3 separate regions of the Homo sapiens genome follow, and all the other regions are linked to region 3. Evidence: fine-mapped expression QTL. A gene starts in region 3. Each other region holds a variant in brackets. All regions are shown on one strand. Distances are between the middles of the regions.

What was found.
Region 1: its variant is fine-mapped to the expression of SERTAD3 in whole blood (TOPMed, PIP 0.97).
Region 2: its variant is fine-mapped to the expression of SERTAD3 in whole blood (TOPMed, PIP 0.95).

What each region holds. Positions count from the first base shown.
Region 1 is chr19:40,363,121-40,373,109 of GRCh38, forward strand. PLD3 (phospholipase D family member 3) reads left to right here. Exons shown (of 13, transcript NM_012268.4): 2 at 2,598-2,810; 3 at 3,299-3,390; 4 at 3,490-3,564; 5 at 3,653-3,795; 6 at 4,576-4,759; 7 at 6,788-6,908; 8 at 6,990-7,117; 9 at 8,553-8,753. The coding sequence starts at 3,364. MIR6796 (microRNA 6796) reads left to right here and starts at 6,726; the gene lies at 6,726-6,787. RefSeq lists a silencer at 4,826-4,991 and an enhancer at 8,662-8,956. The variant C/T (reference allele first, on the strand shown) is at 4,283.
Region 2 is chr19:40,581,025-40,591,013 of GRCh38, forward strand. It overlaps SHKBP1 (SH3KBP1 binding protein 1), which reads left to right. Exons shown (of 18, transcript NM_138392.4): 10 at 1,327-1,442; 11 at 2,374-2,461; 12 at 2,577-2,693; 13 at 5,750-5,920; 14 at 7,600-7,755; 15 at 8,058-8,154; 16 at 9,220-9,398; 17 at 9,706-9,829; 18 at 9,952-9,989. Among named protein-coding and RNA genes, the nearest start is that of SHKBP1, 9.1 kb to the left of the region's middle. The variant C/G (reference allele first, on the strand shown) is at 4,891.
Region 3 is chr19:40,438,375-40,448,363 of GRCh38, forward strand. SERTAD3 (SERTA domain containing 3) reads right to left here and starts at 5,961. Exons shown (of 2, transcript NM_203344.3): 1 at 5,841-5,961; 2 at 2,470-3,712. The coding sequence starts at 3,706. The coding sequence ends at 3,116. It overlaps SERTAD3-AS1 (SERTAD3 antisense RNA 1), which reads left to right and starts at 6,143. Exons shown (of 2, transcript NR_187496.1): 1 at 6,143-6,254; 2 at 6,516-6,889. It overlaps BLVRB (biliverdin reductase B), which reads right to left. Exons shown (of 5, transcript NM_000713.3): 5 at 9,394-9,672. The coding sequence ends at 9,515. RefSeq lists silencers at 4,808-5,187, 5,653-5,712, 5,893-6,212, 6,273-6,492.

The sequences.
Region 1 (9,989 bases), 75 kb before region 3:
CCAGCCCTGTTACTTCAGATCTCCATGCCCCACCTTGCCTTCGGTTTTGTTTTTCTTCATCTTGGCTTCCCTAATTTCACATTGCCTGCTGTTCCAACTCCATATTCTTCAATAAAAATATGTCTCACCAAGGCCTTCAAAGAAAATTGAAGACAAGCATTTCCTGCACTCCCTCCTGCCTCCTCCACCCACAATGTTGTGGTCAACCGCCTCTAAGACTGATGTTATCTTCTGCTTCTCCTAGTGACCTCTGGAGTTTCAAATAACCTTAGTCTGTTGCTGTTTCTTGCTAGATTTGTTTGTTTGTTTGTTTGTTTGTTTGTTTGAGACGGAGTCTCGCTCTGTTTTAACCCAGGCTGGAGTGCAGTGGCGCAATCTCAGCTCACTGCAACCTCTGCCTCCCAGGTTCAAGCAATTCTCCTGCCTCAGTCTCCCGAGTAGCTGGGATTACAAGCGCCCGCCACCACGCCCAGCTAATTTTTACATTTTTGGTAGAGAGAGGGTTTCACCACATTGGCCAGGCTGGTCTTGAACTCCTAACCTCAGGTGATCCACCCACCTCGGCCTCCCAAAGTGCTGGGATTACAGGCGTGAGCCACCACACCCGACCTGCTAGATCCTTTTTAGGCATCCCCATTTGTCTTCCTGCCATGAAAAGAGGGGATCTAGCATGTTCTACCCTCGCCAGTCTGGGATCTGACATTGGTAGGGAGGAGTTTGCAAGTTATCCCTACAAATCTAGGTTGGATCTTGGAGTAAGGGGAGCACCTAGCTCTGAGAGTTTTCTTTTTCTTCTTTTTCAAAAAAGAGTAATGCGCGCCCCTGATTTTTTAAAAGGTAATGAAACTGGTGACGCCTGTGTTTGCTTTATAATTATTTCTCAACCTACACCGAGATATTTTCTATACTTCTCTGAAAATAGCTTATGTTTCACAATTTTAAAAAAGAAAATAGGCTGGGCACAGTGGCTCATGCCTGTAATCCCAGCACTTTGGGAGGCCAAGGCAGGCGGATCACGAGGTCAGGAGTTCGAGACCAGCCTGGCCAACTTGGTGAAACCCTGTCTCTACTAAAAATACAAAAATTAGCTGGTCGTGGTGGCAGGCGCCTGTAATCCCAGCTACTCGGGAGGCTGAGGCAGGAGAATCGCTTGAAACCACAAGGCGGAGGTTGCAGTGAACCAAGATTGTGCCACTGCACTCCAGCCTGGGCAAAAGAGCGAAACTCCGTCTCAGAAAAAAGAAAATAGGGGCCAGATGTGGTGGCTCATGCCTGTAATCTCAGAACTTTGGGAGGCCAAGGTAGGAGGATCACTTGAGTCCAGGAGTTCAGCCTGGGCAATAAGCAAGACCCCGTCTATACAAAATTAAAAAAAAAAAAATTAGCTGCGGCTGGGCGCGGTGGCTCATGCCTGTAATCCCAGCACTTTTGGGGGCCTAGACGGGCGGATCACGAGGTCAGGAGATCGAGACCATCCTGGCTAACATGGTGAAACCCCATCTCTACTAAAAAATACAAAAAAAAAATTAGCCGGGCATGGTGGCGGGCGCCTGTAGTCCCAGCTACTCGGGAAGCTGAGGTGGGCGAATTGCTCGAACCAGGGAGGTGGAGGTTGCAGTGAGCCGAGATGGCGCCACTGCACTCCAGCGTGGGAGAGACAGAGCGAGACTGCGTCTCCAAAAAAAAAAAAAAAAGCAGCTGGGCATGGTGGCACGTGCCTGTAGTCCCAGCTGCTTGGGAGGCTGAGGCAGGAGGATTGCTTGAGCCTGGGAAGTTGAGGCCGCAGTGAGCTATGATCATGCTGCTGCACTCCAGCCTAGGGAACAGAACTCTGGCACTAAAAAAAGAAAAGAAAAGAAAAGAAAATAGGCTTACAATAAAAAGCAATCTTGACCTACCCCAAAATCCCACTCCCTTGAAGACAACCACTTCTGCCCTGTTGCTTCTCTCAGTAATACTCCTTTTCTGCAGTTATCTCTTGACTTCCTGCCATGTGTGTTTGGGGGAGCTTGAGGGAAGAGGGTGTCCCTGTCTCATTGAGAGAGGTGCCACCCTGCCGTGAAAAGAGGTGCCACCCTCTGTCAATTAGGAGAGGAGGGATGAGAGAGGAAAGGGGTCTCCAGTGTATTTCTCCAGCCGGGGCCTTAAATCCCTCTTGGGAGATATGGGATGGGGTGGATCGGAAAATAAATTTTTTTAAATCCCTACCAAAATATCAGCTGGCTTTTTTTAAAAAATCAAATACCAAAATCTAAATAGACTCCAACAGAAAATTCACCATCTCCTCTGACCTTTTCTTCCCATCTCATGCTGTGAACTGTCTTCTGTTGACTTTATCGCTACCTTTCTTCATTCTGTTATTCAACCATGATCTCTCCGTTTCATTTTATAAGCGTTTTATTAATTTCATTTATGTATTTATTTTTGACTAGGTAATGCATGTCCATGGTACACAAATTCACAAGGTTTGTAAATGAGAAAAGACGTGAGGTTCCTTTTGTTCTTTACCTGTGGCCTCCCTGCCCTACACGGGGACTCTAGGGTGGAATGTAGCAAAGCCCATCCACCAGCCATGTACTACCCCCCAACCCGGCCAGGCTGGAGCGACCGTGTCTGGGGAGCCGAGCCCCGCTTCTCGCTGCGGTGAGCCCGGACTGGGGCACGCACTGCGCAGACTCCCCGCTGCAGTGGGCGGAGCTCCCACAGGCCCCGCCCCCTCCTCCCACCCTCGTTCAGCCTGTCCAGACAGAAGCTGGGGCCCACCGGAGGTAGCTGCAGACGCCTGAGAGCGAGGCCGAGGCCCCTCAGGGGTAGGTGGGGGGAGGCTGGCTGGGGGGATGGGCAGCGGGGTGGCAGGGAGGCCCCGATGATCCCTGGCTGAGCTGTGTGGTGTGGGGGCACCTGAGGGCGGAGGAGCCACCTAGAATATACCCCCTGTCCCAGGGCTGAGAAAAGCCAGGCACAAAGACCTGGGGCTCCGCTGACCTCATCCAGCGCTGCCTTTCTTGGGGTGTCTACAGGTTGGAGGAGGGAGAAGGGGGCTGCTAGAGGGGAGCTGCGTGGGTGCTGATGGGGGCAGGGTGGGCACTGCAGAGTGAAGAGCAGGCAGCAGAGCGTTGGATTTTGAGGGATTTCGAAATCCTGCTGACCAGTGACCAGCTTCCTCTTTTTGGGGTGGTGGGCAGTGTGCCAGTGGCCCCCATGATTATGAATAGCCCCAAGACTAATCACTCTTCTGTGATGTCTGTCCCTGGAAAGCGTAGAACACCCCACACAGTGCCCACTTTTGTTCTGCCAGTTTGGAGACCCTGACACACCCACCTTCTCACCTGGGCTCTGCGTATCCCCCAGCCTTGAGGGAAGATGAAGCCTAAACTGATGTACCAGGAGGTAGGTGGATTGGGGGGCTCAGCAGGGTGGAACTGGGTACAGTGGGGGTGGGGGTTCCCAAGAGCCACCTGTCACCCCCGTTGTTGTCCCCATCCCCAGCTGAAGGTGCCTGCAGAGGAGCCCGCCAATGAGCTGCCCATGAATGAGATTGAGGCGTGGAAGGCTGCGGAAAAGGTAGGAGCCCTCCGCCACCCTCGCTCTGTCTCAGAGACAGGCTGGGCTGCCCCCCTCGGGCTGGCTGACCACCTCCTCCTCCCCACAGAAAGCCCGCTGGGTCCTGCTGGTCCTCATTCTGGCGGTTGTGGGCTTCGGAGCCCTGATGACTCAGCTGTTTCTATGGGAATACGGCGACTTGCATCTCTTTGGGCCCAACCAGCGCCCAGCCCCCTGCTATGACCCTTGCGAGTAAGTGGGGGGTGCTGCAGTTGGTGGGGGAGGGGCCTGCCAGACCAGGTACACTTAAGCACACACTAAACAGGGCCTGCACTCAGCCCTACCCAGCGCTTGCGACAAGTGAGGAGGTTGCAGGCTCCCAAGTGCTCGCCCGCCCCCTCCTCCTCCACACACATAGTTTCTATGGCAGCCACAGCGTCATCTTCTGTCAGGCCTGTGAACAGACACAGCATCTTCCACCCACATCTGTGGACCCACACACACATCTCAATACACGACCTTCCTTCCACACCTCTAGACAGACACGCAGAGGATCATGAGTCCAGGCACGCATTCAAATACACACAGTTTTAAAAAATTTTTTTTAAAAGAAAAGAAAAACTCAAATACAGTTTAGCTGGGCTTGGTGGCTCACGCCTGTAATTGCAACACTTTGCGGGGCTGAGGCGGGAGGATTGCTTGAGCCCAGGAGTTCCAGACCAGCCTGGGCAATGTAGTG[C/T]GGCTCCATCTCTACTAAAAGTAAAAAAAGTAACCAGGCATACTGGTGCACACCTGTAGTCCCAGCTACTCAAGAGGTTGAGGCGGGAGGATCGCTTGAGCCCAGGGGTTCGAGGCTGCAGTGAGCTGAGATGGCGCCACTGCGCTTCCAGCCTGGGGGACAGGGCAAGACTCTGTCTCTAAAAAAAAAAAAATACAGTCTATCCAACACACCCATGGACGGACAGCTGAGCACTCACCTCCCAGCCCTTGCTCTCCGGCACCGTATGGCTGATAGCATCCCCCACCCCCCAGAGCAGTGCTGGTGGAAAGCATTCCTGAGGGCCTGGACTTCCCCAATGCCTCCACGGGGAACCCTTCCACCAGCCAGGCCTGGCTGGGCCTGCTCGCCGGTGCGCACAGCAGCCTGGACATCGCCTCCTTCTACTGGACCCTCACCAACAATGACACCCACACGCAGGAGCCCTCTGCCCAGCAGGTACCTGCAACCTTGGCCCTGGCCGGCAGCAGGGGCAGGGGGTGGGAGGCAGCGGGGGCTGTGGGGAATGAAGGGGTTTCTCCTGCAGCCCAGGAGACAGAGGGGTGTGTCTCACACAGCAGATTGGACACAGGTGTTTGCAAGCAGCTGTCGTCACGTGGCTCTCTGGACTGGGGGCGTTTGTCACGGTCATCTGTAGGCCTCTGAATGTCAGGGTGCGGGTTTGGTTACAAGGGATTATTAGGCTGGCAGATGTCACTCACCCACAAGCTGTCCTGACCCAGTCACACAAAGAAAGGGAAGAGTGGAGTAATTAACAGCCCAGCCTCAAGACAGGGGCCACCTCCCAGCTGTGTGACCCCAGGCAGGCCACCTCTTCTCTCCAGCTTCAGTTTCTTTATCTGTAAAATGGGGCCAATTTATAGCACCTGCTTCTTAGGGCTCTTGTGAGGATGAAATGGACTAATCCATGCAAATTTTAGCACAGTGCCTGGCACAGAGTCAGCCTTTGTGAGTCTGCTGTTACTATATATCCTGGTATGGTCTGCAGACAAACTTAAAGAACATAAAAGCTTCACAATTTGAAAAGGAACAGCCTACATGGATAACCTCTTCCATTGAAAAACCATGAATTTGTTCCTTCTGTTTTCTTCTCCCTACTGGCTCTTTTTGTGAGAAGTTGTCTTAAAACTTAACTAAAATTACAAGGCTCCTTAAGAACTGCCTGAAAAAAATAATTATGGCCAAGTGTGGTGATTCACACCTGTAATCCCAGCACTTTGGGAGGCCTAGACAGGAGGATCACTGGAGCCCAAGAGTTCGAGACTAGCCTGAGCAACATAGTGAGACCCGCCCCCCACCTCCCCTCAACCATCTCTACTAAAAATAAAAAAAAATTAGGAGGGTGTTGTGGTGCATGCCTGCAGTCTCAGATACTCAGGAGATGGAAGGAGGAGGATGGCTTGAGCCCAGGAGTTGGAGGCTGCAGCGAGCCGTGATCATGCCACTACACTCCAGCCCAGGCAACATAGCAAGACCCTGTCTCAAAAAAAAGAAAAAGAAAAAGTAATAATAATAATTACAAAAGTTAAAAACCAAAGCCAGGCATAGTGGTACACACCTGTGGTCCCAGCTACTTGGGAGGCTGAAGCAGGAGAATGACTTGAGCCTAGGAATTGGAGGCTGCAGTGAGCTGTGATCATGCCACTGCACTCTAGCCTGGGCAACATAGTGAAACCCTGTCTCTAAAAAAAAATTTTTTTATGTTAAAAAACCGTATGAGCTCCCACTCCCTGCTGGCTCCCTCTAAAGTGGTTTAAAACACAGATGTAGGAGGCAGATGGTCTGGGTTCAAATCCTGCTCCATAGCTGGATGTGGTGGTGCACTCCTGAGGTACTAGCTACTTGGGAGACTGAGGCAGGCGGAATGCTTGAGCCCAGGGATTGAAGATCAGCCTGGGCAACATAGCAAGTCCCTGTCTCAACAAACAAACAAACAAAAAAACAAAAACAAAATCCCACTCCACTACTGAGTTCTCTGTGGGGATTATAATTAAACCAGCCTCACTGGGTTGTGAGAATTCAGTGAGTTCGCTGAGAAGAGGCCTAGAACAGGGCCTGGCACACAGTAGGTTCCAGGGCATCCTTGACTGTTGCTGTTGTTGGCATCATCGTGCCTCACCCGATACCTTCCAGGACCCCCTGCCTGAGCCTCGCCCCCACCATACTGGGAGATGCCTGGAGGCCCTGCCTTGATGCTGAATTTTGAGAAAGTCCCTGGAGGGGCAGGAGGGGTCAGGAGGACTTGGAGGGGGATCACAGGGCAACTAATTATTAAAGCAGATAAAGATGTTTAAAACAGATAAGGAAGTCTTTTAATATTTTAATCTGTAAAGTCTTTAATCTATGCAGGCTAATGTAAAGTCTGTTTACTCCTAATCATGTCTCAAAATAACTCCACCGGGCATTACCTTGTGGGGTTGGAGAGCTGGCTGGTCCAGCCCCTCAGAAGCTCTCCCCTCCCCGCAGGGTGAGGAGGTCCTCCGGCAGCTGCAGACCCTGGCACCAAAGGGCGTGAACGTCCGCATCGCTGTGAGCAAGCCCAGCGGGCCCCAGCCACAGGCGGACCTGCAGGCTCTGCTGCAGAGCGGTGAGCTGGGGCCCAACTGGGGCTGGTCTGGGCCTGGGGGTACCCAGCCTGGCCCCTGATCTCTGCCCCTGCTGGTCACAGGTGCCCAGGTCCGCATGGTGGACATGCAGAAGCTGACCCATGGCGTCCTGCATACCAAGTTCTGGGTGGTGGACCAGACCCACTTCTACCTGGGCAGTGCCAACATGGACTGGCGTTCACTGACCCAGGTCTGTCTGCACCCTGTCTACCTTCCTTCCAGGCCACTCCCTGCCCCACAGGGCACCCAGCCTCCGACTGCATCCCTCACTCAATCCAGAGTCCTCTCCACCCATTCTCTGTAATGGCTTCCTTCTTGCCTCCTACCAGGCCTCCCTAATCCAAGCCATGCACGGTGGCTCACACCTATAATCTCAACACTTTGGGAGGCCAAGGTGGGAGGATTGCTTGAGCCCAGGAGTTGGAGACCAGCCTGGGCAACATAGTGAGACCCCATCTCTACCAAAAAAAAAAAAATAAGCCCGGTGTGGTGGCACACACCTCTGGTCCCAGCTCCTTGGGAGACTGAGGTGGGAGGATCACTTGAGCCCAGGAGTTTGAGGCTACAGTGGGTTGTATTCATGCCACTGCACTCCAGCCTGAGTGACAGAGTGAGACCCTGTTACAAAACAAAGAATCCCTAAATGGAGCCCTCTACTGCCCTCCCCCTGCTCCTGGAAGCCTGGGGCTCCCTCTGATCCCCAATTGCAGCTACCAGCCCCTCTACATGGCATTCAAGAACCTGCGCACCCATTTGATCTTCATTGTACATCTCTGTGTGCCTGCTCTAAGTCCAGCCCTATCCTGGGTAATGTTGGGAACATGGTGGTAACAGATGGACCTCATGGAACTCCCAGCCCAATGCAGACTGGCCTGTCACCTGACAGTGACAGCCCAGAGGGGTCAGGGCCGGGGTTGGGGAGACACAGGCAGAGGGTCAGGGCCAGGATGGAGGGAACAGAGGGCTGTGGAAGCTCAGAGACCCCAACCTGGGGCATTGGAGGGTTTCCCAAAGGAGGTATAACTAATCTGATCCCTGAAGGATAGGGAGGAATTAGCGCAAGATGGAACAGGAAACAGCTTGGGCAATGAGGTGAAGATAAGACAGGACAATAACTCATGAATTCATTTCCTCAACAGATAGTTCCCCTAACCTTTAATCTCAGCAATTATGCAGGGAGATGCTGTAGATATAGCTGTGACTGAGACATCCCTAGTGCCTGTCCTCCCAGCCCAATGGGAAGACCAGTTTGTCACCAGAAAGAATGAGGAGGGAATCCCAAGGGACTGTGAGAGCCCAGAGGAATGCCTGGTGCAGGCTGGGTAGTCATGGGAGGCTTCCTGAAGGAGGCAACATGTCAGCCTAGACCTAAGAATGAGTAGAAGCTAGCTCAGTGGAGGGTAGAAGCAACAGCAGATTGCAAACGTTCAGGAAACCTGGAGCTTTGGAATAACTGATTTTCATCAAAACTTAAGTTGATAATCATTCTAGGACTTTAGCTATTGGAGCTGGGGTGGAGGGGGTACTGTGGGACAGGGGGAAAGACAGAGACCAGACTGGGGAGTGTCCCTGTCATCTGTGAGCACTAGGCCGCTATCGCTGAGCTCAGCACTGCCCTCCTACAGGTCAAGGAGCTGGGCGTGGTCATGTACAACTGCAGCTGCCTGGCTCGAGACCTGACCAAGATCTTTGAGGCCTACTGGTTCCTGGGCCAGGCAGGCAGCTCCATCCCATCAACTTGGCCCCGGTTCTATGACACCCGCTACAACCAAGAGACACCAATGGAGATCTGCCTCAATGGAACCCCTGCTCTGGCCTACCTGGCGGTGAGTCTGGGGCAAGTGGGGCCTGTCATGTCCCAGCCCCATGCCGTCACTCACAGCCTCCATCTGTCCCTGTTTGGTGATGACAGGGAGGGCGTATCCTGACCATCAGTTCTCACCCCAGCTCATTCTGCTTGGTCAGGGGCCTGGAGTAGTTCCCAACATCCCTCGGCCTCTATTTCAGTTAGAAAATGGGTATTGTTTCCAACCTGTTAGGGCTGCTGGGAGAGGTACCCTGGGTTCATGCACACCAAACCTTTGGTGCTCTATATCATCCAGTATAGCCACAGGTGGCTCTTTCAGTTTAAGTTAATTAAATGCAATTAACAATTCAGGCCAAGTGGGGTGGCTTATGCCTGTAATCCCAATACTTTGGGAGGTTGAGGTGACAGGATCACTTGAGGCCAGGAGTTTGAGACCAGCCTGGACAACATAGCAAGACTCCATCTTTACAAACAAACAAACAAACAAACAAAACTAGCTGGGTTGGGTTGTGCATGCATGTAGTCACAGCTACGCAGGAGGCTGAGGCAGGGGGATCACTTGAGCCCAGGAAATCTAGGCTGCAGTGAGCCATGATCACACCACTGTACTCCAGCCTGGGTGACAGCCTGTTTCAAAAAAAAATTGTTTCAAGCCAGGCATGGTTTCTCATCCCTGTAATCCCAGCACTTTGGGAGGCCAAGGCCAAGATGGGAGGATCACTTGAGGCCAGGAGTTCATGACCAGCCTGGGCAACATAGGGAGACATCATTTCTTTCTATTTTTTTTTTTTTTTTGGTCTTATTATTTATTGTTCTAGATAGGATACCCAAGAACTAGGGAGACACCATTTCTACAAAAACATAATATTAATTAAAATTAGCCGGGTGTGGTTGTGTGCACCTGTAGTCCCTGGGGAGGCTAAGACAGGGGGATCACTTGAGCCCAGGAGTTTGAGGCTGCGTGAGCTGATTGTACCACTGCACTCCAGCCTGGGCAAGAGGCTGTTGCCCTGTCTCCAAAAAAAGAAAAAATTCAGTTCCTCATGCAGTAGCCACATTTCATATGCTCAGTAGCACCTGTAGCAAGTGACCACCATATTGGACATTTCCATCACTGTGACAGGCTCTGTTGGACAACACTGGCTCTCGCCATGGCAGATACTGATCACTCTGGACAAGGCACTGATGTTTCTAGCTCTTGATAGTTTCACTAGTTGAGGCAGGCAACCCAGGTCTCCCTAGGTCCCCCTGAGCA
Region 2 (9,989 bases), 140 kb after region 3:
TAAGAATTCTCTGCTCTATTAGATCTGTTTGTGTCATTAGAATGCTCCAGCCCTTCAGAATTCTGTATCCTGTTAGAATTCCCTGGCTTCCTAGAAAAATCCACCCACATACAATTCTCCCTCCATCAGAATTCCCTGCCCTGTTAGATCTCTTGGTTTTGTTAGAATGCGCTATTCTGTGTGGCCATGAGAAATGTCTGACTTGGCCCGGTGCGGTGGCTCATGCTTGTAATCCCAGCACTTTGGGAGGCTGAGGCGGGCAGATCACTTGAGGTCAGGAGTTCGAGACCCCCTTGGCCAACAGGGTGAAACCCAGTCTTTATTTCAAAAATACAAAAAAATTAGCTGGGTGTGGTGGCACGTGCCTGTAATCCCAGCTACTCAGGAGGTTAAGGCAGGAGAATCACTGGAACCTGGGAGGCAGATGTTGCAGTGAGCTGAGATCGCACCACTGCATTCCAGCCTGAGCGACAGAGTGGACAGAGTGAGACACCATCTCAAAAAAAAAAAAAAAACAAAAAAAGAAATCTCTGACTTATGGCTGGGCACAGTAACTCACATCTGTAGTTCCAGCACTTTGGGAGGCCATGGCAGGAGGATTGCTTGAGGCCAGGAGTTCGAGGCTGCCGTGAGCTATGTAAGCCATGATTGCACCACTGCACTCCAGCCTGGACAACAGAGCAAGACCCTGTCTCAAAGCCACAGCAACAAATCTCGGACTTATTAATCTGTCCCCAAATAAATCTCAGCCCTCGTAAGAATCCCCTGCCACCAGTGGAGGTTTTTTTGCCTTATTGCAAATCTCAGTGCTGTTAGAATTCCAGACCGTTTTAGAATCCCATACCCCATCAGAAATCTTCTGGCCCATTTTATCTTCTCTAATTCCTGCTGGAATCTTCACTTTTTTTTTTTTTGAAATGGAGTCATTCTCTGTTGCCCAGATTGGAGTACAGTGGTATGATCTCGGCTCACTGCAACCTCTGCCTCCTGGGGTCACGCAATTCTCCTTCCTCAACCTCCCAAGTAGCTGGGGCTACAGTTGTGTGCTACCACACTCAGCTAATTTTTATATTTTTTAGTAGAGATGGAGTTTCATCATGTTGGCCAGGCTGGTCTCAAACTCCTGGCCTCAAATGATCCGCCCACCTGAGCCTCTCAAAGTGTTGGGATTACAGGTGTGAGCCACTGTGCCCAGCCCCTGATGGAATCTTCTATCCTTCAAGGATTCTGTGGTCCCACTGAACCCTCTGGTCCTTGGAGTTCTTCCTCCCACCTCTCCTCCTCCATGAGGCAGGGTTCCAGCTGAGCCCTTTTTGCCCACTGCAGGGGTCTTTCATCTGGGGGTGCCTGTGGAGGCCTTGTTCTTCGTCGGGAACCAGCTCATTGCTACAAGCCACACAGGGCGCATCGGGGTGTGGAATGCCGTCACCAAGCACTGGCAGGTCAGAGTTCTGGCCAGCCTGGCTGCCCCCTTCCCAGTTTTCCAGACTGTACAGACCCAGGAAGGGGTTCACGTCTGCCCCCACCCCCACCCCCTAAGCCTGGAGGAAGCCAGAGAACCAGCAGCTGGCCAGAGCCTGGGGATGTCTGTGATAAAGGCCTAAGGAGCACCAGGGAAGCCTTCCTGGAGGAGGTGCTGCAGAGCCCACATGAAGCATGAATGGGTTTGAAAAGGAGTAGGGAGGATTGTCTTGGGACTGGGTGAGAGAGCAGGTTAGGGGGGATGCTGTAGAAGACAAGAACTGGCTTGGCTCGGTGGCTCACACTTGTAATCCCAGCACTTTGGGAGGCTGAGGTGGGAGGATGGCTTTGGGAGAAAGACAGACAGAGGCAGAGAAAGAGACAGAGAGGCAGAAAACCAGGCAAATAGAAATAGAAAATCAGAAAGAGGTGACAGAGAAGGGTAGACAGAGTCAAACCAGACTGAACCACTGTGGCAGATGGGGGAACTCAGAGAGATAAATGGAGATGAATTAGAGTCATGTCAGAAGTACATAGTGGAGGCCGGGTGCAGTGACTCCCGCCCGTAATCCCAGCACTTTGGGAGGCCGAGGCAAGAGGATGGCTTGAGCCCAGGAGTTTGACGCCAGCCTGGGAAACATAATAAGACTCTGTCTCTACAAAAAATTTAAAAAATTAAAACTTTAAAAAGTACAGAGTCCAGGAGAGGCCAAGAGTCAGACAGACAGATGCATCAAAGGGAGGAAGGGAGGGAACAAGACAGGGACAAAGGCAGGCCTGGGGTGGACGGGGCTGGGGAGCAGTGGGTGGGTTCTGGAGGTGGAGGAGAGGGCCCATCCTCTGTGAGGGGTCACCACGGAAGGAAAGGAATGGAAGGGCTCCCGGCTGCAGCCTGTCCTGCCCCACCCCCAGGTCCAGGAGGTGCAGCCCATCACCAGTTATGACGCGGCAGGCTCCTTCCTCCTCCTGGGCTGCAACAACGGCTCCATTTACTACGTGGGTGAGCAGCAGCCTGTGTCCCGGGTGCCCGAGACCCTCCCCTGGGAGAGGGGAAGGGAGGGAGAGAGGCTGGGGCACTTGGAACAAACCCGCTCCACCCTCCCTGCCCACCCCAGATGTGCAGAAGTTCCCCTTGCGCATGAAAGACAACGACCTCCTTGTCAGCGAGCTCTATCGGGACCCAGCGGAGGATGGGGTCACCGCCCTCAGTGTCTACCTCACCCCCAAGACCAGTAAGCTATGACCCGGCTTCCCCTGCTGCTGTCACCTGCCAGCCCCAGCCCCAGCCTGCAGCTGTCCCCCAACTTGTGTAGCATGACCCAGAGGGGTTTATCGAGGGGCGGCAGATTCAACTCTCTCTCATTTTTTTTTCTGAGACAGACTCTCATTCTGTTGCCCAGGCTGGAGTGCAGTGGTGCAATCTTGGCTCACTGCAACCTCCACCTCCTGAGTTCAAGCGATTCTCCTGCCTCAGCCTCCCAAGTAGCTAGGATTACAGGCGCCCACTGCCACGCCTGGCTAATTTTTGTAGTTTTAGTAGAGATGGGGTTTCACCATGTTGGCCAGGCTGGTCTTGAACTCCTGACCTCAGATGATCCTCCCGCCTCAGCCCCCCAAAGTACTGGGATTACAGACGTGAGCCACCGCGCCCAGCCAGATTCAACTCTCATCCAGTCATTCAACAAATATTTACTGAGTATCCCTGTATATAAGCACGTTCTAGGTGCTAGATGGTGGCCACCCTCTCCACTAGGGGCAGAATGGACCATTAGGAGTTAATCTTTGTGTTTCTTTCCCACCTTTGTGATTAAGGCATGATGTTCACATGTTCATAAAACAACACAGATGCAGGTTTTACAGCAGATGAACCTGAGTTCTCTTACTTGAGACAGTTTTTTGTTTTGTTTTCTTGACATCAAATGCAGAATGGGTTAATTTTTGAGACGTAATTCTCATACCATAAAATTTCCCATTTGAACGTGCACAATTCAGCGGATTTTAGTATATTCACAAGGTTGTACAACTATCACCATGAACAAATTCCAGAGTATGTTCATCACCCCCGTAAGAAACCCCCTGATCTTTAGCAGTAACTCCACATTTCTCACTTCTGATACCCTCTAGAAATCACTAATATGCTTTCTCTTTTTGTTTGAGACAAGGTCTCGCTCTGCTGCCCAGGCTGGAGTGCAGTGGCATGATCTCAGCTCACTGCAATCTCTGCCTCTTGGGTTCAAGCGATTCTCATGCCTCAGCTTCCTGAGTAGGGGAGGATTACAGGTGTGCATCACCATGCCTGGCTAATTTTTCTACTTTAAGTAGAGACTGGGTTACGCCACGTTGGCCAGGCTCAATATGCTTCCTATACCTATGGATTTGCCTGTTCTGGACAATTCCTGTAAATGGGATCATACATTATATGGTCTTTTGTGTCTGCATTTTTCACTTAGCATATTTTTTTAAATGGTTAGTGTTTTCTGGGTCTTAAGATATCCTTACCTATTCTAGGTTACAAAGATCTTCTCCTGAATTTCTTCTAGAAGATTTACAGTTTAGTTTTTACATGGAAGTCTGTTCTATCAGAAATTAAATTTTATGTATGGTGTGAAGCAGGGATTATTCTTTTTTAAAAAAAAATAGAGACAGGGTCTTGCTCTGTTGCCCAGGCTAGAGTGCAGTGGCATGATGTGAGTTCTCTGCCACCTCCGCCACTCGGGCTCAAGCGATTCTTCTACCTCAACCTCCTGAACAGCAGAACCACAGGCATGCATCACCACACCTGTCTAATTTTTGTATTTTTTTGTAGAGACAGGGTTTTGCCATGTTGCCCAGGCTACTCTTGAACTCCTGGGCTCAAGTGATCCTCACACTTTGGCCTCCAAAGTGCTGGAAATACAGACTTGAGTCACTGTGCTTGGCCATAGCTGCTGCTGCTGCTTTTCTTTTTTTTTTAAAGCAGAAATAAGTTAATAATACACCTAACTTCATGACACATTATCACCTTTCTTCTTTGTAAGGCCCTTTTCTTATTTCTTTTTTTTCTTTCTTTCTTTTTTTTTTTTTTTGTCTTTTCCTGAGACAGAGTATCGCTCTGTCATTCAACCCAGGCTGGAGTGCAATGGCGCAATCTCAGCTCACTACAACCTCTGCCTCCTGGGTTCAAGCAATTCTCCAGACTCAGCCTCCCAAGTAGCTGGGATTACGGGTGCCTGCCACCATGCCCAGCTAATTTTTGTGTTTTTAGTAGAGGCAGGGTTTTGCCACGTTGGCTAAGCAAGTTTTGAACTCCTGGGATTCTCCTCTCGTCGTCTCCCAAAGTGCTGGAATTACAGGCATGGGCTGCTGCACCCGGCCTCTTTCTTATTTCACTTACTTACTCATTTCCTCCTCATCTCCCTTCCCGCCACATGCCACTATTATGTCATTTTT[C/G]TTTGTTTTTTGAGACAGTCTCGCTTCGTCACCTAGGCTGGAGTGCAGTGGCGCAATCATAGCTCACTGCAGCCTCACCCCCTGGGCTCAAGTGATCCTCCTACTTCAGCCTCTTGAGTAGCTGGGATCATAGGTGAATGCCATCACACCCAACTAGTTTTTTAAAAATCTTTTGTAGAGATGAGGGTCTCACTATGTTGCCCAGGCTGGCCTCAAACGCCTGGCCTCAAGCAATCTTCCTGCCTCGGCCTCTGTTCTCTGTTTTACTTTCTCTTTCCTCTCTTATTTGCTGTTTCACTGTTACAATTTCTGTCTCTGGGCCTCTCCTCCTTTGACCTGTGCCTTTGTCTCCCTGTTCCTCCATTTCCCACATCTCATCACCATCTTTTTGTGTCCTTCCCTCTCTCCTTGCTTTCTGACTGTGTCTCTGTTCTGTGTCTCTTTCTTTCTTTCTTTCTTTTTTTTTTTTTGAGACAGAGTCACATTCTGTCATGCAGGCTGGAGTGCAGTGGCGTGGTCTTGGCTCATTGCAACCTCTGCCTCCTGGGTTCAAGCAATTCTCATGCCTCAGCCTTCTGAGTAGCTGGGATTACAGGTGCGTACTACCACCACCAGCTAATTTTTGTATTTTTACTAGAGACAGGGTTTCAGCACGTTGGCCAGGCTGGTCTTGAACGCCTGACCTCAAGCGATCCACCCGCCTCAGCTTCCCAAAGTGATGGGATTACGGCGTGAGCCACCGTGCCCGGCCTCTCCTTGCTTTCTGACTGTGTCTCTGTTCTGTGCCTGTTTCTTTCTCCCTGCCCTGGTTTCTGTCTCTGTGGCCCAGGCCCTCTCCTCATCCTTGGCCCCTCACCAGGTGACAGTGGGAACTGGATCGAGATCGCCTATGGCACCAGCTCAGGGGGCGTGCGGGTCATCGTGCAGCACCCGGAGACTGTGGGCTCGGGGCCTCAGCTCTTCCAGACCTTCACTGTGCACCGCAGCCCTGTCACCAAGATCATGCTGTCGGAGAAGCACCTCATCTCAGGTGAGCCTCTGTGGGGTGCTCCAGTGCTGGGAGAGACAGCTCAGATGGGAGTGTGGAGACAGGAGGATGAGAATTTCCACTGGGGAGGGACATTGTGTAGGAAGAGAGCTCTGGCGGAGAGGATTGACCTGGGATGGGACTGTAATTGCAGAAGTGAGAGAATACCATAGGGGATCAGTCTGGGGAAGAGTGAATCTGTGTGTGTTTGGGAATCCATCAATTCAGCAACGATTTACGGGGCACCCACCATGTGCCAGGCATAGGGGATACAGTGATGAACAAGACAGGCCAAGTCCCTGCCCTCGTGGAGCTGACATTCTAGCAGCGATGGCAGACAATAAATCTATAAAAATGGACATCAATGGCCAGCTGCGGTGGCTCACACCTATAATCCCAGAACTTTGGGAGGCCAAGGCGGGTAGATTACTTGAGGTCAGGAGTTCGAGACCAGCCTGGCCAACATGGTGAAACCCCACCTCTACCAAAAATATAAAAAATTAGCCAGGTGTGGTGGCACGTGCCTGTAATCCCCGCTACTCGGGAGGCCGAGGGAGGAGAATTGCTTGAACCTGGGAGGCGGAGATTGCAGAGAGCCCAGATCATGCTACTGCACTCCAGCCTAGGCAACAGAGCGAGACTCCATCTCAAAAATAAATAGATAAAAATGCAAATCAGGCTGGGCACTGTGGCTCATGCCTATAATCCCAGCACTTTGGGAGGCCAAGGTGGGAGGATTGCTTGAGGCTAGGAGTGTGAGACCAACCTGGACAACAAAGTGAGACATTGTTTCTACAAAAAATTTTTAAAAAATTAGCCAAGTATGGTGGCATGCACCTGGGGTCCCAGCTTCTTGGGAGGCTGAGGTGGAGGGATCACTTGAGCCCAAGAGTCAGGGGCTGCAATCAGCTATGATTGCACCCCTGCACTCCAGCCCAGGCAACAAAGCAAGACTCTATCTCATAAAATATTAATAAAATAATCTAAATCAACACCAGGCAATGATAAGGGCTATGAATAAACATGAAGCTGTGTGTGGCTAGAGAGTGTCAAGTCGCTGGAGAGGGGTCATTCAGGGAAGGCCTGAGGAAGGACCTTTGAGCAGAAATAACAGAATGAGCAGTGCAGATTGGTAGGGACAAGCATTCAGGCCGAGGGAACAGGCATTGCAAAGGCTCTGAGGTGAGAGGATGCCTGAGGAAGTGCAGGGAGCCACTTGTGCCTGGAACAGAGTAAATGAGGGGGAGAATGGGAGGAGATGAGGGTATGGAGGTGACAAGGGCAGGAGCCACAGAGGGCTCCGAGCAGGGGAGGGACATGACTAGCTTCAGGTGTTCACAGGCTCCACCTGGCTGCCCGTGGGAGCACACTACTGGGATAGGACAGGAGCAGGGACCTCTGGGAGGGGCGTGCTGATACGGTCCAGGCAGGTGACGAAATGGACCAGGACCGGTGTGGGGCAGAGGATAGGGCAAGGTGAGATCAGGCTCTGGAACAGTTTTGGAGGCAGAGGCAACAGGGTTTTTAACATTTGGAATTCTGGGGAGGAAAGGATTCTCTGAAAGGGAAGAACTCAGCAAGGGCTGACCCTCCTGAAACGGGGCTGTCCTGAGGCTCTGGACGGGCAGGCAGCATTGATGCCTGCACCAGGCCTGACTTCCTGCTCTCCTTGTGCCCCTCAGTCTGTGCCGACAACAACCACGTGCGGACATGGTCTGTGACTCGCTTCCGCGGCATGATTTCCACCCAGCCCGGCTCCACCCCACTCGCTTCCTTTAAGATCCTGGCTCTGGAGTCGGCAGATGGGCATGGCGGCTGCAGTGCTGGCAATGACATTGGTGCCTACTGGCTCCTGGCCTTCCCACCCCACTGACCCCCTTACCTGACCCCTGTTGACCTCCGCTGATTCCCACTTGCGGCCACCTGACCCAGGAGCCTGCAACGATTGGGGTGTCCTGATCCTTGAGGCACCTGAGCTCCACTGACTGCCACAACCCCCCAGCCCTCTCTGGCCCTGCCCAACTCTAACAACCTGGGGATGGGACTGGGGTCTTGGGGTGGTGGGTTTCATCAGTGGGGAAGGAAGTCTGAGGCTGAGGGAATCCCAGCTGGCCCTGACCCCTGCCCCTGCCTGGCCCAGGCCCCTACGGTGAGCGGGACGACCAGCAAGTGTTCATCCAGAAGGTGGTGCCCAGTGCCAGCCAGCTCTTCGTGCGTCTCTCATCTACTGGGCAGCGGTGAGGACAGTCCTGTCCAACAGGGAGGGAGGACAGTCCTGTCCAACAGGGAGGGAGGTCAGGGGAGAAGGCAAGATGCTAGCCAGATCACTGAGGCCAGAAAGGGGTCCCAGCCAAGGAGCATTGAAGGAGCAAAGGCTGGGAGGGAGGACAGGCCTGGTAGGTTTGTCTTCTGGTATCAAAGGTGTGACAGGTGTTGGTGGGACTGACCTGGCGCAGTGCCAGCCCAGTGCAGGCAGGGCCAGGTTGAAGGCACAGGGGGTGGGGTCAGGGTGGGATGGGGGGCCCAGGCGGAGGGGGAGGGGTGGGATGGGGGCCCAGGGGGAGAGGTCGGGGTGGGATGGGGGGACCAGGGGGAGGGGTTGGGGTGGGATAGGGGGACCAGGGGCAGGGGTCGGGATGGGATGGAGGAGACCCAGGGAGCTGTAGGAGCCTTGCTTCAGCTGGGAAAGGGGCCTCGGAGGATGTTCTGGATGAAGGGACTCTGAGCAGAGACCTAGAGGACAAGTAGGAAGGAGCAGAAGAAAGAAGGCAGGGGAAGGGGGCCCCAGCCTGAGGGAACTGTATGTGCAGAGGCTGAGAAGGGCCAAATAGGGTCACATGGGAAGGACACGTGGGCTCCTGGGCTGGAGCACAGAACAGGAGGTGAGGATGGGGTGCAGATGCGGGCGGGCCTTGTCAGGCTGTGGAAGGGCTGAGGCTTTGTCCTGTGCGGGGAGCCGTGGCCACTGCATGGGGGATGAAAGGAGGCTTGATGGGAGGCCAGGAGCCCAGGGAGGAGGCCAGGAGGCTGATAGGAGGTGGGGGAGCAGCTGGGACGGGCCTCAGGTCTTCCCTGCAGTGGGAGCAGGGAAGAGCAGAAGCTCTGGGAGACTCCCTGGGTGTTTGGGGCTGCGGTGTCCAAGAGCTGCTGGACCCTTGGGACTGGAACTCAAAAGCAGGCTAGGGATGGATAAAGATTGGGATGGCCCCTGGAGAGGCAGGAACTGCAGCCACAGTGGTGGGGACTGGGACGAGGAAGGGTGAGAAAGCGAGGGTGACCACCTCCCCCACTGCACCCCCCAGGGTGTGCTCCGTGCGCTCCGTGGACGGCTCACCCACGACAGCCTTCACAGTGCTGGAGTGCGAGGGCTCCCGGCGGCTCGGCTCTCGGCCCCGGCGCTACCTGCTCACTGGCCAGGCCAACGGCAGCTTGGCCATGTGGGACCTAACCACCGCCATGGACGGCCTCGGCCAGGCCCCTGGTACTCCCTGCCCCACCCCAATCCCGTCCCAAGCCCCACAGCCTCACCCAGAACCACTCTCCACTGCCAACTGCTTGATCTCTCTCCCAGGCCCTTGCCCTCTGACCCCTTTTCCTTTGACCCCCTCTCTGCTCCCCATCCCTTCCTGCCCTTGTTTTTCAACCCCTGTCTCAGCCTCTGGCCCCCATGCATTGATCTCTGCTTCCTCTCTCCTGTCCTGACCCTCGGTGCTTGCACTGCAATGCAACCCAGGCCCTTGCCCTATGACCCCTGTCTTGCCCCCTGACCCTGCTTCCGTGCCCCCCAGCAGGTGGCCTGACGGAGCAAGAGCTGATGGAACAGCTGGAACACTGTGAGCTGGCCCCGCCGGCTCCTTCAGCTCCCTCATGGGGCTGTCTCCCCAGCCCCTCACCCCGCATCTCCCTCACCAGGTAGCCACAACTCCACTGCCCCTTCTGTGCAATGAGGGGAGAGGGGACAGCATGGTGTTCCCGGGGACAGAGTGGCCCAGCTGCCCCGTGATGACGTGCACTTACTGTCCTTACTTCCTCAGCCTCCACTCAGCCTCCAGCAACACCTCCTTGTCTGGCC
Region 3 (9,989 bases):
GGATGTGTTGAGCTAGGAAGGGCAAGGAAGACCTCCCTGAGAAGGGGATATTGGGATTGGTGAAGCTATTGGGGAAAATGTCCACTGGGAAAATTTAACAGTTAGGGCAAAGGCCCTGGGGTGAGAAGGAGCTGGGGTCAAGGGAGCCCAGTTGAGTGATGGAGAGAGTGGGAGATGGAACTGAGAAAGTTGTCCGAAGTGAGAATAAGTCAGTCCTTGCAGGTCTTGGTGGAGCTGGCGCTTTATTGAGTGTGTCAAGAAGTCACTGGAGGCTGGGCGTGGTGGCTCATGCCTGTAATCCCAGCACTTTGGGAGGCTGAGATGTGAGGATCGCTTGATTCCAGGAGTTCAAGACCAGCCTGGGCTACATGGCACAACCCCATCTCTACAAAAAATACAAAAATTAGTCAGGTGTGGTCCACGTGCCTGTAGTCCCAGCTACTTGGGAGGCTGAGGCTGAGGTGGGAGAATTGCTTGAGTCCATGAGGTGGAGGTTGCAGTAAGCTGTGATTGTACCACTGCACTCCAGCCTGGGCGACAGAGCCAGAGACCCTGTCTCAAAAGAAAAAAAAAAAAAAAAAGGCACTGAAGGTTTCAAGGAGGAAGACATGATTCAATTGCCATCATATTGGGATGCAGACCTGGTTGCTTACCTTTTATTTTTATTTTTTACAATTCCACAGCAAGTATCACACCTGGTTGCTTTTTTTTTTTTTTTTTTGAGATGGAATCTCGCTCTGTCACTCAGGCTGGAGTGCAGTGGTATGATCTCAGCTCACTGCAACCTGTGCCTCCTGGATTCAAGTGATTCTCCTGCCTCAGCCTCCTGAGTAGCTGGGACCACAGGTGTTTGCCACCATGCCCAGCTAATTTTTTGTATTTTTAGTAGAGACAGGGCTTCGCCATGTTGGCCAGGCTGGTCTCAAACTCCTCACTTCAGGCAATCCTCCCGCCTTGGCCTCCCTAAGTACTGGAATTACAGGCCTGAGCCACCGCGCCTGGCCTGTACCTGGTTGCTTTCTTTAGATCCTCTGGGCCACCTCATTCCTCTCTCTGGATTGGCACCCACCTCTTCAGGTTATCCCTCCACTTTCTGACAATGACCCCTTCAGGTTGAGAAATCTGGCTTTGACCCAGAAACCACAAGCAAAATCCCCATCCTTTCTCCACCCATGGACTATACTCAGGTGTTGTTCCTCCTCGCAGCCCTTCCAGAAAAGTCCCTAATGCTGTGTAGCTCACTTGCTTCATCTCTTCAAAGACCATTGTAAAGGCATAGCCTGTACAGGTATCACATTACCTCTTCCTTCACTTCCTTCACCTCCTTCTCCTCTCCTGTATCTCAGCAGCCTGGGCTCGTACCTCCGAAATAAAGCATCAGCACAGGTCAGGCACAGTGGCTCATGCCTGTAATCCCAGCACTTTGGGAGGCTGAGGCAGGCGGGTCACTTGAGGTTAGGAGTTGGAGACAAGCCTGGCCAACATGGTGAAACTGTCTCTATTTTAAAAAAAATACAAAAATTAGCTGGGCGTGGTGGCAAGCACCTGTAGTCACTGCTATTCGGGAGGCTGAGGCAGGAGAATTGCCTGAACCCGGGAGTGGAGGTTGCAGTGAGCCAAAATCCTGTCATTGCACTCCAGCCTGGGTGACAGAGTGAGACTCCGTCTCAAAAAAAAAAAAAAAAAAAAAGCATTAGCACTATAAATCTAATCTGGGCTCTGCTTCCTAGCCAACTCTCCTAAAGAGGTCTTTTAGTACTGGGGGTCTTTGGGCATTTTCTTGCCCCTCTGGGCTCAGCAGCACATTCAGTGACACATACTCCGTGTGACTCAGTTTCTCCCTCCTGTGCCCACCCACGTGGCTGGTTAGTCTAAGAAGCAACATTTATAATAGTGAAGGACAAGGCTCTGGAGGCCATTTCAGCCTAGCTCCCTGGTCCTTGTTCTTCCTAGCTGTGTGGCTCTGAATTAAGTGACTTGTCCTCTCTAAACTTCTGGTTCCTCCTGTATAAAAAGTGGTAACAGTACTTACTTCTATATGAGGATTAACAGACTTAATTCAAATAAAGTGGCTAGAACAGTGCTCTTAACAAGCACTAATTTTTTTCTGAGGCTGGAGTGCAGTGGTGTGACCATGGCTTACTGCAGCCTCAACCTCCCAGGCTCAGGTGATCCTCCCAACTCAGCCTCCCCAGTAACTGGGACTACAGGCCGCCATGCCTAGCTCCTTTTTGTATTTTTTGTAGAGGCAGTGTTTCGCCACATTTCCCAGGCTGGCCTCAAGCAGATCCTCCCAAAGTGCTAGGATTCCAAGTGGGAGCTAGAGCACTCAGCCAACAAGCACTCAATAAATGTCATGTACAATGATACACCTACCCCAGCTATGGCACGGAAGTGGTGCTGATGTTTAGGAACTTACCAGGTCCCTCCCACTGACCCAGTGAAGTTTAGAAACATTAGACAACATCCCTCCTTCCAAAATACTTTTATTTAAAAAAATTACAAACAATCCAAAAAAAAAAAAAAAAGCCACCACAAACTCTGCCTTTCTTTTAAATAACCCGGCATGGAGCAGTTTGGTTTCCACCCTATTGCACGTGGTCCGGCCTGGTTATGAAATCAGGAGGCTGCTGAGACTGGGGTCCTGCCGAGGAAGTGGGGTTCAGCCTGGAGGGAGGACACCAGCCCCTCCCACCCCCTCAAGGTGCAAGAGGCAGAGCCTGGGTTTCTATAGCAACCTGGCAGCACATCCCTGTCATCCTTCGACAGGCCCAGCTTTCTTTATCTTCCCTGAGGCCCCAGTGGTCACAGGGGAGTGGGAACTAGCAGGAAAGGTGGAAGAAATGTGTAAGTGGAAAATCAGACTCCCAGAAACAGAGTCTCGTTAAGGCATTTGGAATAGATAAATTAATTCAGGAAGACCCACCTTCACAGAAGGTCGGGGTAACCAGACACACACACACATGCAAGACAGTTTGTGGAACCCTGAAATGGGAACAAAGGAGGCCATAGTCACTGCTTCGAGCCCCCACAAAAACACACACCCAGAGTTGCATTCAGGGATCCAGGCCACCGAAGATGACATGAGGAAGGATCGATCCCCTCTATCACAGTTTTAGGACCCCAGAATGATTTCCATGATGTGATCCAGTTCATTCCACTCCCAAGAACCTGGGGCACAGAAGAGGTTGTGAGGAGGCTCTGGTGGGGCCCGTGCAGGCTCCTTTTCTACCGCAGATGTGTCAATGTCCAGAAAGAAGTCATCCAGGCCAGAGTCCCCCAAGTACCGGGAGCTCAGAGCTTCTAAGAAGACTGGATCAGGCTGGGGTGGCACTTCATTCTGGAGGCCAAGGGGAGTCACTGGATTCTGAGGGGGCTCAGTCCCATCCATGGAGGTGTCCAGCTCCCTGAGGATAGAGCCAATGGTGGCTGACAGGGAGAAATCCTCCTCGCCCAGGAAGAGGGGCTCGGGGGGCAGGGCAGGGGCGGGAGCCAGGCGAAGTGCAGCCTGCAGCTGTTGGAGGGTGTTATGGATGAGGACATGCCTGCGGAGGCTGGGTGCTCGGGGGCCCAGGCTGCGCTGGACTTTGTCTAGGGAGATGCGGAGCAGGGCTTGCTGGTAGCTCTGAAGGCCTGCTGGACTCCACTCCCACCTCTCCTCCTCCTCTTCCAAATCAGAGTGTTTCCTCTTCAAGCCTCCCACCATGATGCCCTGTAGAGAGAAGAGGCGCATAGGGGAAGGTCAGACACCAGACACCGTAGTGCTGGCTCATATCCCACTTTCTCAGGCCTATTGAGTTGTTAGTGATTTTTAATCATCGGAATCTCAGTTTACTGATGTATAAAATGAAGGCTGTCTGAATCCTACAAGTTTAAGAAGGTGAGTACATATACGATTAAGAAAATAAGATCTGGCGTTACGTACAGCTAGATTTAAATCTCACTTACTTGCCTGTTGTGGCCTCAAACAGTGAATTTACATCCATGAGAATCAATTTCCTCATCTGCCAAGTACGGATCCTAACTCAAGTTCCTCTAAGCCTTAAAACTGTTCTTCCACAATATTAATTTCTTCAAACATGGAGCACGAAAGACAAGTGTGGAGCACAGAGACCTGGATTGGAAGTAGGGAACCCCAAATCTGAATTCTGTATTGGAAACTGCTCAGCTGCGTGATCATGGGAAGTGATCTGAATGAGTCAATTCTCAGGGCCTCAGTTTCCTCATCTGTAAAATAGGGACTGTAAAAAAATACTTCTCACCACCTCTGTCAAGGAGATGCCACGTATCTATAGGGCCCACCACACCGGAAGTGCTTAATGAACAAGAGTTGTGTTTGTTTTTTGTTAGAGACAGGGTCTCGCTCTGTCGCCCAGGGCTGAGTGCAGCAGCGCTATCACAGCTCACTGCAGTCTCGAAGTCCTGGGCTCAAGCGATCCTCCCGCCTCAGCTTCCTGAGTAGCTGGGATTACCACCACACCCGGCCTCGATCAAGAGTTAATTGCCAGTTATTCGCTCAACAGATTTACTGAGTGCCTACTATATTCGAAATCTCCTGGAGCCCTGTTGGGGAACCTATGTTGAGATTCTTCTTCAACAGTCGGGATATTTCTATGTCCTCTTCCTTAACCGACTGGGAGCGCTCCCAAGAGTAGGAAAGGGGCCTGTCTCATTCCCTCTGCCCACGCTTTCAGATTCCCCCAAAGCGCGCCCCATAGGAAAACTTGCTAGAACTCAGCTCAGACCAAGCCCCGCCCCCTCGGAGGTCCCACTCAATCAGACCGCGACACTGTAAGGCCCCGCCCCCCCATGGGTCCTTACAGAGCATCCAGGAACGCCCCAATTTGGCCCAGGGGCTTCTGGGAAACGGGGGCCAACAGCCGCCAGGTACACGAATTGACGTCGAGCACGCACTACAATCCCCAGAGGGCTCCGCCCGTCCAGGGGACGAGCCACCCCCCTCACCCCGCTCTCCCTCAGGGCATGCGCACAGGGGCACAGGCGGGTGGGGGAAGGGAACCTGGACGTCCAGCTGCCGGCGCCTGCCGAGCCCCGCCCTCCATTGCCTCCGGGGCCGCGAGTCTGAGCTCCAGGCCCGGAACACCCCTCCCCCACCCCAGACTCCGGCTCTAAATTTGCTTTCTCCCGGTCCCTCTGTTCCTTGAAAGTCCGCGATTCTCCTTCCAAACTGCCCTTGGATCCAGAGACCCAGATCCGAACACATCGCTCAAAGACGACAATGCTCCGATCTAGTTCGGGAGACTACGTATCCTAATTCTGATACTTCCTCCCACTTCTCCTAGTCTCCTGACTTTCAAACGCCCCTGGACTTCACCTCCAAACTCGCTGTCCGGCTCCAAGACCCGAACATTGAACTCTTCCCGGCAACCTCCTTCCCCCGCCAGTGCGTCTTGGAGTCCCAAGAATCCTTGACCCTAGTTCTCTCGCTTCTCCAAATACTCAGAATCTCAGCTCCGTACCTCTCACACCTTTTCCAGAACACGATAAAGCCCCGAATTCAACCCGTCCGGAAGACCCAAGTGGAATCGAATCTCCAGGTTCCCTGTCTCAAAAGTTCCTCCCCTCTGTTCTCTCGCTTCTCCAAAAGCCCAACGTCCCAGCTTCAAACTCCCTCCACTTGAAAATACTGCCCCAACAACCTCGCCTCCCCTCCTGGGTCTTGAACTCAGTCTCAGGTCCCCAGACCCTCCCTATCATCACCCTGAATCTGAGGCCCCCTCCCCCGGTCCCACCCAGACCCCGCCTCCGCAAGTCCCCGGGGCGCGCTTCTCTCTCCCCCAGCCTAAGGTAAATTCCCAAGCCAGGCGACCACTCCTCACCGCAGCTGCCAGGTTCGCCACGACCACCTCCTGGAACGCCCACAGCGTTGCGACCCGCCAGTGCCAGGACCCACCAGTGACCGGTTGGAGCCTCGCTCACCTCGGCGGGGCCTCTCCGTCTGGCCTCTGGCCCACCAGCCCCGCCCCGGAGCCGAGCCGCGAGCCGCGATTGGCTGGAGTCCCGCCCGCCGCGGGGCGTCGATTGGCTGGGCGGAGCCATCCGCCCGTGCCCCGAGACGCCGGATCCGCCCACCCCTCCCTAGCGCCCCGGGCCATTTAAAGAAGTGCAACTGGCAGGGGGCGGGGCAGCGACTCCGGGGTGGAGGGCGGCCGGTCCAACAGAACCGCTTCCTTCCACTCAGCTACAGTCCTCGCTCCAAGATCGTCACCATTGCTCCCTGCGGTTCCTTTATGGTAGGCCTGGACTCCACCGTGGAGCCAGAGGGGCTGGCATGCCCCTCCCCAAGTCGCTGTGCAGGCGGGCGGGGCCGAGCAACCGGAGGAGGCCGCGCCCCCGGGGTTCCGAGGGAGGACGCTGGGGCGCGGGGGATGACGTAGCGGAAGACCAGCCAATAGAGTGGCGCGGCCCGCGTTGCCTAGGCGATCGTAGCCTCGCCCCCTTGCTGCCCCTCCCGCCCCCTATACGTTACCGCGCGGCCCCTTCTTAATCCTCAGGTTTTCTCAGCACGTCCTCTGGTGGTCCCACCTGGGTCTTCTGACACCCTCTTTCCTTCCCCGCTCCATCAAGATGACTCCTCTGCTACTGTTCATGGCTTCCTACCCACCCCGAATACAAACTTCAAACTCCTTCCTTTTGCCACAAAGCCCCTCACGACCTTGCTTGATGCGTTCTCCTGGTTCTCTCCGATCCTGCCCCATTGAGTCACTTCCAGTTTTTCTAAAATGGCTTCAAGCTCCCATTCACCCCATCAGGAAAACGAAAGGATTTTCTCTGTTTGTTTTCTTCCCTGCTTTACCCCAGTGTCTACAACAATGCCAGGTACATAATAAGTTCGCAAACATGACAATAAAAGGCCTCTGGATCTTTATTATTAATATTATTTTTTGCCGGGCGCAGTGGCGCACGCCTGTAATCCCAGCACTTTGGGAGGCGGAGGCGGGCAGATCACTTGAGGTCAGGAGTTTGAGACCAGCCTGGCCAACAATGGTGAAACCCCGTCTCTACTAAAAATACAAAAATTAGCTGGGCGTGGTGGCGCACGCTTGTAATCTCAGCCACTTGGGAGGCTGAGGCAGGAGAATCGCTTGAACCTGGGAGGTTGAGGTTGCAGTGAAGGCGAGATCGTGCCACTGCACTCCAGCCTGGGTGACAGAGAGATGGGGGAGGGGGGAGGGGGGTTTTCTTGTGTTGCCCAGGTTGGTTTTGAACTCCTGGCCTCAAGCAATCTTCTCGCCTCTGGATATTTAAACTTGTTTCCTCATCCTCAAAATATACCCTCAATTCCCAGGCTGCTTCTCAGAACACATTTCAAAGGTTTCCTCCTCTCCGAAGCCCTCCCTGGCAGTCCAGGTTGGGTTAGGATCCATTCTAGGATTCCATGGCCTCCTGTGCCGCCATCCCAGTCCTGGACTGTCAGTTACTATATGGACTGAGGAACGCCCCGCCGAGGGCAGGTACCAAGGATATCTCTGTCAACCACCTCTTGGTCTGCAGGATCACCTAGCACAGGGCTGGACACGTAGCAGGTCCCAGTGAAAGTTTGCTAAATGCTCAGGAATGTGACAGAAAAATAAGGCAGAAAGAAGACACTGCTAGTGTCCTGAAAGCCCACACCCGTAATGCTCCGCCCCTACAACGAGTTTCCCTAAGGGGAGGAGGCAGTTTTCTCCAGGCCACCTCTGGGAAGGGAGGTTTAAGCCTCCTCAGACCAGTTCTTGCCGGTTGGAGTTTGTCAACCAAGTCATCCTGATGTTTGCAGGATAAATGGGAGGGGAATAGGTAGGTGGGTGGTGTGGGTTGGAGGTAGGGAGAGAGAAGTGTCTTAGCTCACCCAGGCCTAGGGAAGGTGTCCCTGGGAAAAAAAGAAAGGGACAGTAGGTTCCAAAAAAGGACATAATTAGGAAGGAGCAATTCTTCCCCTTCCTCCTCCAAAACCTGCGCCTCCTATAGGGTCCACAACTCAGGAAAGCCCTACTGCATTTGGGTTTTTGTTTTTGAGACGGGGTCCCACTCCGTCGTGGATGCTGGAGTGCAGTGGCGCACCTTGGCTCACTGCAGCCTCAGCCTCCCTCCTGAAGCACTAGTGTAACTCTGTCCCCGGGTTACAGCCGTATGCTTCTTTCTGATGCCTCCCCTCCACCCCTCACCAACTGTCCACGCAGGCTCCCAGGCATTCCTCACACCCACTCTCTCCTCCCCTCCTTACAGTTCCTCCTCCAACTCCCTCTGGGCTATCAGCCTCCATTCCTGGACCCTTCCTTTCCACCTTCACAGAGTAGCCAAAGGAAGCTTCATAAAACACCCAACTGTCCCCCCTGCCTTACTTCTCTGGTGCTCCACTCCTTGCATAAATCCTCAAAATAAAGCACAAACTTTTTTTTATTTTCAGAGACAGGGTCTGGATCTGTCCTACAGGCTGGAGTGCAGTGGCCAGGCCTTGACCTCCTGGCCTCAAGCCATTCTCCCGCCTCAGCCTCCTGAGTATCTGGGACTACAGGTACACACCACCATGCCCAGCTAAGTTTTTAAAAATTATTTTGTAGAGATGGGGTCTCACTATGTTGCCCAACCTGGACTCCTGGCTTCAAGCCATCCTCCCACCTCAGCTTCCTGAGTATCTGGGACTATAGGTGCACACCACCATGCCCAGCTAAGTTATTATTATTATTATTATTGAGATGGAGTCTCGCTCTGTCACCCAGGCTGGAGTGCAGTGGCACAATCTCGGATCACTGCAACCTCCACCTCCCAGGTTCAAGCGATTCTCCTGCCTCAGCCTCCTAAGTAGCTGGGATTACAAGTGTGCATCACCACGCCTGGGTAATTTTTGTATTTTTAGTAGAGACAGGGTTTCACCATGTTCGCCAGGCTGGTCTTGAACTCCTGACCTCAAGTGATCTACCCGCCTCGGCCTCCCAATGTGCTGGGATTCCAAGCATGAGCCACCATGCCTGGCCAGACTCAATAAACTGTTACTGGGCGGGGCGCAGTGGCTCACGCCTGTAATCCCAGCACTTTGGGAGGCGAGGCAGGCGGATCATGAGGTCAGGAGATCAAGACCATCCTGGCTAACACGGTGAAACCCTGTCTCTACTAAAAATACAAAAAAATTAGCTGGGTGTGGTAGTGGGCGCCTGTAGTCCCAGCTACTGGGGAGGCTGAGGCAGGAGAATGGTGTGAACCTGGGAGGTGGAGCTTGCAGTGAGCCAGATTGCGCCACTGCACTCCAGCCTGGGCGACAGAGCAAGACTCGGTCTCAAAAAAATAAAAAAATAAAAATAAACTGTTACTGAACAAATGAATGAATGCATAACAAGCAAATCTTACACAGAGGCAGGCAGACACACCAAAATACTCAGACAGAGGCAGAGAGAGGAAGAGTCACACAGTCGGTTTCTCTAGAGTAATTTGAAGCTCTTGGCTCAACATTTATTGCCCCCTTCCTTTGCTCCTCATGTCCCAGAATGCCACCCTCCCAGATGGGGACAGAGTGCTACTGGTACTGGTGGGAGGGGTAGGTGCTGTGTCCGTCGTACTCATCGGTGGTGAGGCAGCGCAGCATGAAATGGCCCAGGTCATGTTTGGAGATGACCCTTGAGGGCCCTCGTCCATCCAGGGTCACTGTGTACGCCCCAGTTAGTGGCTGGTCTCCTATGAAGTAAAGACAAGAGGGGCTGGATAAAGCAGACACCTTTCCCTTCCCCCAAAATTCGACCCCCAGAAAGACCTTCCCAGGGTGCCTACTGTGTGTCCAGCCTGGGTGGTGTCACAGCCAAGAATGGACTTTCCATATGCAGGTGCTCATCTATATCCTTTGCTTCATTCATTCGATAAATCCTTATTGATTACCTATTGTGTGGCCAGGTGCTGGGCACCCAAGCAAGGGACAAAGCAGACAGGAATCCCCTGCCCTGGCCAGTGGCGGTGGCTCATGCCTGTAATCCTGGCACTTTGGGAGGCTGAGACAG